Linked DNA regions of Homo sapiens. The protein of the gene in region 1 interacts with the protein of each later gene in a biochemical or structural test. Each region holds a gene or a part of one and is shown in the gene's direction. Other genes may lie near its edges.

What was found. Proteins that work in one complex are often made in the same cells at the same time.
Region 2: the proteins of CRP (region 1) and CFHR4 form a complex in vitro, tested with the Homo sapiens proteins (4 studies listed by IntAct, with this or other methods).

Annotation. Positions count from the first base shown.
Region 1 is NC_000001.11:159,712,874-159,716,631, reverse strand, and holds the start of CRP (C-reactive protein isoform 1 precursor), read left to right. Parts: upstream 1-2,042; 5' UTR 2,043-2,146; coding exon 2,147-2,207; intron 2,208-2,493; coding exon 2,494-3,107; 3' UTR 3,108-3,758. UniProt on the Homo sapiens protein: Displays several functions associated with host defense: it promotes agglutination, bacterial capsular swelling, phagocytosis and complement fixation through its calcium-dependent binding to phosphorylcholine.
Region 2 is NC_000001.11:196,886,082-196,889,839, forward strand, and holds the start of CFHR4 (complement factor H-related protein 4 isoform 1 precursor), read left to right. Parts: upstream 1-1,970; 5' UTR 1,971-2,069; coding exon 2,070-2,127; intron 2,128-3,758.

The DNA of each region.
Region 1 (3,758 bases):
GTTTATGTTGGCTTCACTAGAGTGGTGAAGGCCAATGGCTGATTTCCATGGATTGAGGAGGGAACAGGAGATGGAAAATAGAGGTTGTCAACCCACGTAAACTTTTCCTTCCTTCCTCCCTCTCTCCCTCCCATCCTTCCTTTTTTCTCTTTTCTTTCTTCTTTCTCTAAAAGATTAAATATATTATAGTATGGTTTTGTGGAAATGATCAAGTAAAGATGAATAAATTAATAATACAGAAGATAGAGAGGATACCTATAGGAGCAAAATTCCTTGCATAGTCGACAGGGTCTGGGATCCACTGAAGAATTGCAAGGGTTGGCCTTAGATGTAACACAGGGAGAGCTCATCCCTTTTAATAGAGGAAGACAGAAAGGCTGGTACATTGGGTTGTAGGAGGATATATAAGGATATCAGTTAGGTGTTAAGAACAGAAAGACTGAGTTAACAGTGATTTAACAAAAGAGGAGAGTATTTCTCCTTTAAGTAAATTTTCAGGTAGGCAGCCTAGAGCTGATGCAGTGGCTCCATACCCAATTATCCAGGCTCCATCTATCTTGTTGCCATGCCAACCTCAACATGCAGCTTACACTTGCTGGCCTGAAAGTGAACTATTCCATCTCCTGCTATCATGACTGAATACTAGTCAAAGGGAAAAAGGGGGAAGTGGGAGGGGAAAGCACATACCTTTCTTAAAGAGCACAACCTAGAGATGGTCCCTATTCTGTTCATATCTCGTTGGCCTTAATTTAATCACATCATCACTGCAAGCTACAGTGGGGGCTGGGAAATTTGGTGTTTGAGGGGATGACCAAGCGCCCAACTGAAAATGTTATTCTTCTCTTATGAGAAGTAGAGAATGGATGTTAGGGAATGGCTAGAAGACTCTACTACAAAGGATACGGTGGTTCTTTTCTGATTGCTTCTAACTTCTCAATGAAAGGTGAGTTCATCAGCTGAATGAAAGAATAAATGAGATTTTGGGGACTTGAGGAGCAAGGAGAAGGAGTATAATAGTCATTTTGAAGAGTGAGTTAAGTAGGGAACTGTAGTAAGATTGACAGACAGTGTGGAGGGATTACTTGAATCTTGTGAATAGAGGAAAGAGTAGAATCAGATTATCCTGACTCCTGCCTGAAGCTTTACATATTCAGAGAAAAATGTTGGAAGAAACTTTGATATAATGCTATGTCTGTGATCAGGCACACATTTTACTGGACTTTTACTGTCAGGGCCGTCATTTAGTGCCAAGATGTCTAGAGAGTTCTTAATAAGTGTACTCAATTGGCTGAGAAAATGTGTCCATGCAAAAAACCAAACACCGCGTGTTCTCACTCATAGATGGGAATTGAACAATGAGAATACTTGGACACAGGAAGGGGAACATCACACTCTGGGGACTGTTGTGGGGTGGGGGGAGGGGGGAGGGATAGCATTAGAAGATATACCTAATGCTAAATGATGAGTTAATGGGTGCAGCACACCAGCATGGCACATGTATACATATGTAACTAACCTGCACATTGTGCACATGTACCCTAAAACTTAAAGTATAATAATAATAAAAAAATGTGTCCATGGCTCTGGGAGGAGCATGTTTGTTTTCCTCATTTCCCAGTCTGTAAATAAGCAAATTGAAAGGGGTTAGTGATAATGTCCATCTCCAGAAGCTGTCAGATTTCCTTTGTCAAACTCTATGATTTGGGCTGAAGTAGGTGTTGGAGAGGCAGCTACCACGTGCACCCAGATGGCCACTCGTTTAATATGTTACCATTTCCCATTATTTTCGCAGGATAGATAGCCAAAGTGGAGCCCTGAGAGATTTCTTCATTTTTCCTGTCATAAAGAATTGGTAATTCAGTAGTCATAGGAGTTTGTAATAAATAACTCACATTGATTTCTCTGTTCTGAAATAATTTTGCTTCCCCTCTTCCCGAAGCTCTGACACCTGCCCCAACAAGCAATGTTGGAAAATTATTTACATAGTGGCGCAAACTCCCTTACTGCTTTGGATATAAATCCAGGCAGGAGGAGGTAGCTCTAAGGCAAGAGATCTAGGACTTCTAGCCCCTGAACTTTCAGCCGAATACATCTTTTCCAAAGGAGTGAATTCAGGCCCTTGTATCACTGGCAGCAGGACGTGACCATGGAGAAGCTGTTGTGTTTCTTGGTCTTGACCAGCCTCTCTCATGCTTTTGGCCAGACAGGTAAGGGCCACCCCAGGCTATGGGAGAGATTTGATCTGAGGTATGGGGGTGGGGTCTAAGACTGCATGAACAGTCTCAAAAAAAAAAAAAAAAGACTGTATGAACAGAACAGTGGAGCATCCTTCATGGTGTGTGTGTGTGTGTGTGTGTGTGTGTGTGTGTGTGTGGTGTGTAACTGGAGAAGGGGTCAGTCTGTTTCTCAATCTTAAATTCTATACGTAAGTGAGGGGATAGATCTGTGTGATCTGAGAAACCTCTCACATTTGCTTGTTTTTCTGGCTCACAGACATGTCGAGGAAGGCTTTTGTGTTTCCCAAAGAGTCGGATACTTCCTATGTATCCCTCAAAGCACCGTTAACGAAGCCTCTCAAAGCCTTCACTGTGTGCCTCCACTTCTACACGGAACTGTCCTCGACCCGTGGGTACAGTATTTTCTCGTATGCCACCAAGAGACAAGACAATGAGATTCTCATATTTTGGTCTAAGGATATAGGATACAGTTTTACAGTGGGTGGGTCTGAAATATTATTCGAGGTTCCTGAAGTCACAGTAGCTCCAGTACACATTTGTACAAGCTGGGAGTCCGCCTCAGGGATCGTGGAGTTCTGGGTAGATGGGAAGCCCAGGGTGAGGAAGAGTCTGAAGAAGGGATACACTGTGGGGGCAGAAGCAAGCATCATCTTGGGGCAGGAGCAGGATTCCTTCGGTGGGAACTTTGAAGGAAGCCAGTCCCTGGTGGGAGACATTGGAAATGTGAACATGTGGGACTTTGTGCTGTCACCAGATGAGATTAACACCATCTATCTTGGCGGGCCCTTCAGTCCTAATGTCCTGAACTGGCGGGCACTGAAGTATGAAGTGCAAGGCGAAGTGTTCACCAAACCCCAGCTGTGGCCCTGAGGCCCAGCTGTGGGTCCTGAAGGTACCTCCCGGTTTTTTACACCGCATGGGCCCCACGTCTCTGTCTCTGGTACCTCCCGCTTTTTTACACTGCATGGTTCCCACGTCTCTGTCTCTGGGCCTTTGTTCCCCTATATGCATTGCAGGCCTGCTCCACCCTCCTCAGCGCCTGAGAATGGAGGTAAAGTGTCTGGTCTGGGAGCTCGTTAACTATGCTGGGAAACGGTCCAAAAGAATCAGAATTTGAGGTGTTTTGTTTTCATTTTTATTTCAAGTTGGACAGATCTTGGAGATAATTTCTTACCTCACATAGATGAGAAAACTAACACCCAGAAAGGAGAAATGATGTTATAAAAAACTCATAAGGCAAGAGCTGAGAAGGAAGCGCTGATCTTCTATTTAATTCCCCACCCATGACCCCCAGAAAGCAGGAGGGCATTGCCCACATTCACAGGGCTCTTCAGTCTCAGAATCAGGACACTGGCCAGGTGTCTGGTTTGGGTCCAGAGTGCTCATCATCATGTCATAGAACTGCTGGGCCCAGGTCTCCTGAAATGGGAAGCCCAGCAATACCACGCAGTCCCTCCACTTTCTCAAAGCACACTGGAAAGGCCATTAGAATTGCCCCAGCAGAGCAGATCTGCTTTTTTT
Region 2 (3,758 bases), about 37 Mb from region 1:
GTCTTGTATAACAAAGGAATTCATCTTTTTAATCCTTTTTTTCCCTTTTTACATATGTCTCAACTACAATTTAGCCTGGACTTTTAATGTATAAAATTCTGTTATGATTTTCTTTAAAATGTAATATACACCTGTAGTGACCTGTTTTATTACTAGCATTGTCATAAATGCTTTAGTATAAATGAATTAAGAAAAATGCTCTTAAAATAGATTTTGGGGCTTATCGGGGGAAACCAGCCCCTGGCAATTCAATGTAGGTTCTTTTCTATTTCCCTAAGTGTCAGCTGGTCTGAGAAATAAAGGGAAAGAGTACAAAAGAGAGAAATTTTAAAGCTGGGTGTCCAGGGGAGACATCACATGTTGGCAGATTCCGTGATGCCCCCCAAGCTGCAAAACCAGCAAGTTTTTATTAGTGATTTTCAAAGGGGAGGGAATGTACGAATAGGGTGTGGGTCACAGAGATCACATGCTTCACAAGCCAATAAAATATCACAAGGCAAATGGGGGCAGAGCACCAGGACAAAATTAAAATTGCTAATGAATTTTCAGGCATGCATTGTCATTGATAACATCTTATCAGGAGGCAGGGTTTGAGAGCAAACAACCCGTCTGACTAAAATTTACTGGGCGGGATTTCCTCGTCCTAATAAGCCTGGGAGCACTACCCAAAACCAGGGCTTATTTCATCCCTTATCTGCAACCGTATAAGACAGACATTCCCAGAGCAGCCATTTCAGAGATCTCCCCCTAGTAATGCATTCTCTTTCTCAGGGCTGTTCCTTGCTGAGAGAAAGAATTCAGTGATATTTCTCCTATTTGCTTTTGTAAGAAGAGAAATGTGGCTCTGTTCTTCCCAGCTCTCAGGCAGCCAGACCTAATGGTTATCTCCATTGTTCCTTATTGTACCTTAAAATAATACATACCCCAAAACACAAGTTTAAAAAGATTGAGATATCAAGAATATGCTGAAACTTTTGTACTCAGTATGATCCATTGTGAGTTATCAAAATCAGTATGCTACTCTAAACACATGAAAATACAGACAGTGGAATGGGGTCCAGACATACTGGTTTGTTTTCATACGATCCTTAAATAATTAAGTTGGGTATTGGGAAGCAAAGGACGATAGAATATTAAAGTAACATGGACCCTGAGAGATATTCATTTATGATTCATCTGCTTGTGGAAGAACTTCAAACAATTTTCCAGTCTTTAATTTTAAAATTAGTGTTCTCGTTGTAAGAAGAGTATGTGTGTGATAGGAGATAGTATTATGACCATTTGTGGAAAAAAAACAACCTACCATGCTCAAACAGCAGGATTTTCAGAAGTAGAATAGTGTGCCAGATGTTTATTTTCAACGTGATGTCAACACGGCTCCTATCTTCATTTTCTTCTCCATTGCAGAAGATAAGTCTGAAACTACAGTTTCTGAAGCCTGTTTCTCCATAACTTGCTTCTTCCTTAGATTCCCCCATGAGATGTACTTAAAGAAGACTTGGAAGAAGAGAAAGACAAGGCATTATCTGTCAGCAGCTGCTGGTAGCAGCTGAGATCACCAACAGTAGCTTTCCTTGCTTCTGGAAGTTTTCCTGAGAAACATCCACTGCAGCACCATGGATAATTAGTGAGGGCATCACTAAGATTCCTGAACTTCAGAATTTTCTGGAAATAGCATTTCTGACCTTTGTCCCTCAATGCTTCCAATAGTTGCAGAAGCCTTTCATTCCCTGTATTAAAACTCTCTTTACTTAAAAAATAAGAAATAAAAATGAATTAATGTTTTATGTTACTTTTGGAGTTGGTCCATTACTGTCACTAAATAAAGCTGTACATGTACATACCAGGGAATCAATTCCAGAGATGATTGTGAAACCACTAACAAGAATCATTGAAGCATTTTGCAAAACTCTCTGAACTTTGATATTTACTAAGTGACCTTAAAGCCCTAGCTTTGTGGTAGTGCACTTAAATTCAGAATCACACTTGGTAACTAATAATGAAAGATTTCAAACCCCAAACAGTGCAACTGAAACTTTTGCATTACTATACTACTGAGAATATCTAACATGTTGTTACTAATCAATGTCATTCTGACCTTGTGGGTTTCCTGTGCTAATGGACAAGGTAAGTTGAAAGAGATCTAAACACTCAGCTTCCCTCTTAAATGTAACTTCGTGTAATATCTAACTTCATATGTCTATAATTTTTTTATAAATCTGATAGGATATATTCACTATGCTAGCAGAAGTAGCATATTTTGTGAGAGTATAACAGAAATTAATTTTATGAAAAAATATCTCATAATTTAAAGAAAAAATGAATAATATTTTCTTTGTTTTACAAATTCTACAGTGTAAAAAGCATCTAATATTCATTATGGAGATATATGAATATACTCATAAAACTTTAAGTAGGAAACATGTCATTAGATAGATTCTAACCTTAAAATGTTCAGAATTTTCTTATTCATAATACAAGGGAAACTTTGGGAGTGATTGATACTTTCATAATCTTACATACAGTGATTTTTTATTGATTCATATATCAAAACAGCAAATAAAATATTTTAAATTATGCCATTTCTTATATTTCTATTATACCTTAAGAAAGCTGCTACATCTAATTAACATTAATATGAATTTAATATTTCAACAAGATTAGCAATATGTAAATCACAACATATATGTAATCAAAAAGCAGAATATATACTTAACTTACATTGGAATGACAGTAAATTTTAATTTGCATTTCTGAGTTCACTAGCAAATGTTCAATAAATAAATACATAAATAATTTTCATAGCTTTATGTCATTGTTCTCTGATATGTTTTCTCCTCGATAGTCATGTATTTTCTATATTAACTATCTCTTTGAATGCAGGCCTTGCATATTAAAGAACTATATTGTATGTAACATTAGCAGTGGAACCACATGGGTCAAAAATCATGGACAATCAAAGGTGTGTCACCATTAATGAAGAAAACAAATTTTATAATTATCCAAAACTTTATAATATTCCAACAAATGTAATGGAGGATAATATTGGAAATCCCACTATCAATTATTGAGAGTATCTTTTCCCTCAGCCTCTCCTCTCAAAGCTATGCCACTTTATTTGATTCTAAGTAAACAGCTTTAGGTTTTACAGTATTATCTATCACATGATTCGCTAGTTTTAATTGCTGTGCAAAATCAACCTTGATTTGTGCCAAAATGAAAAAAAAGGAATTTCTCTTGTTATTCCCTTTGTTAACTAAACTGCTACAGGCACATTTTTTAAAATAAGGATTACATAGATTAAAGTAGAATGCAAAGCAGAAAAATAGAGAAAAACAGTACTATTTTGAAATGACTGAAATTAGATTAGAATAAGCTCTACTTTCTTAGTTACTTTCTCAAAAGCAGTATAAGAAAAGAATGCTGACAAATTCTTTCTTATTTGATATTCCAGTTGAAAACTTTTCTCCTCCAATGAACTCTTTGTAAGAGTAAACTTGAGAAAAATGTCTTGTAAATTTGGGTCACACCTATATTTCTCAAAGGAGAAAGTAACTCATTTAGTGGAATAACATCTTGGGTAGTGAGAAACATCTTTGTGAATTCAGTAGCATTGGCTCAACTGCATCCCTCCAAAATTTATTTGTAAAAGTCCAAATTCCCAATACCTGAGAATGTGACTGCATTTGAAGAAGGAGAGCTTAAAGATGTAATTAAGTTAAAGGTCAATGATTCAGGTGGGACCTACTCCAATATAA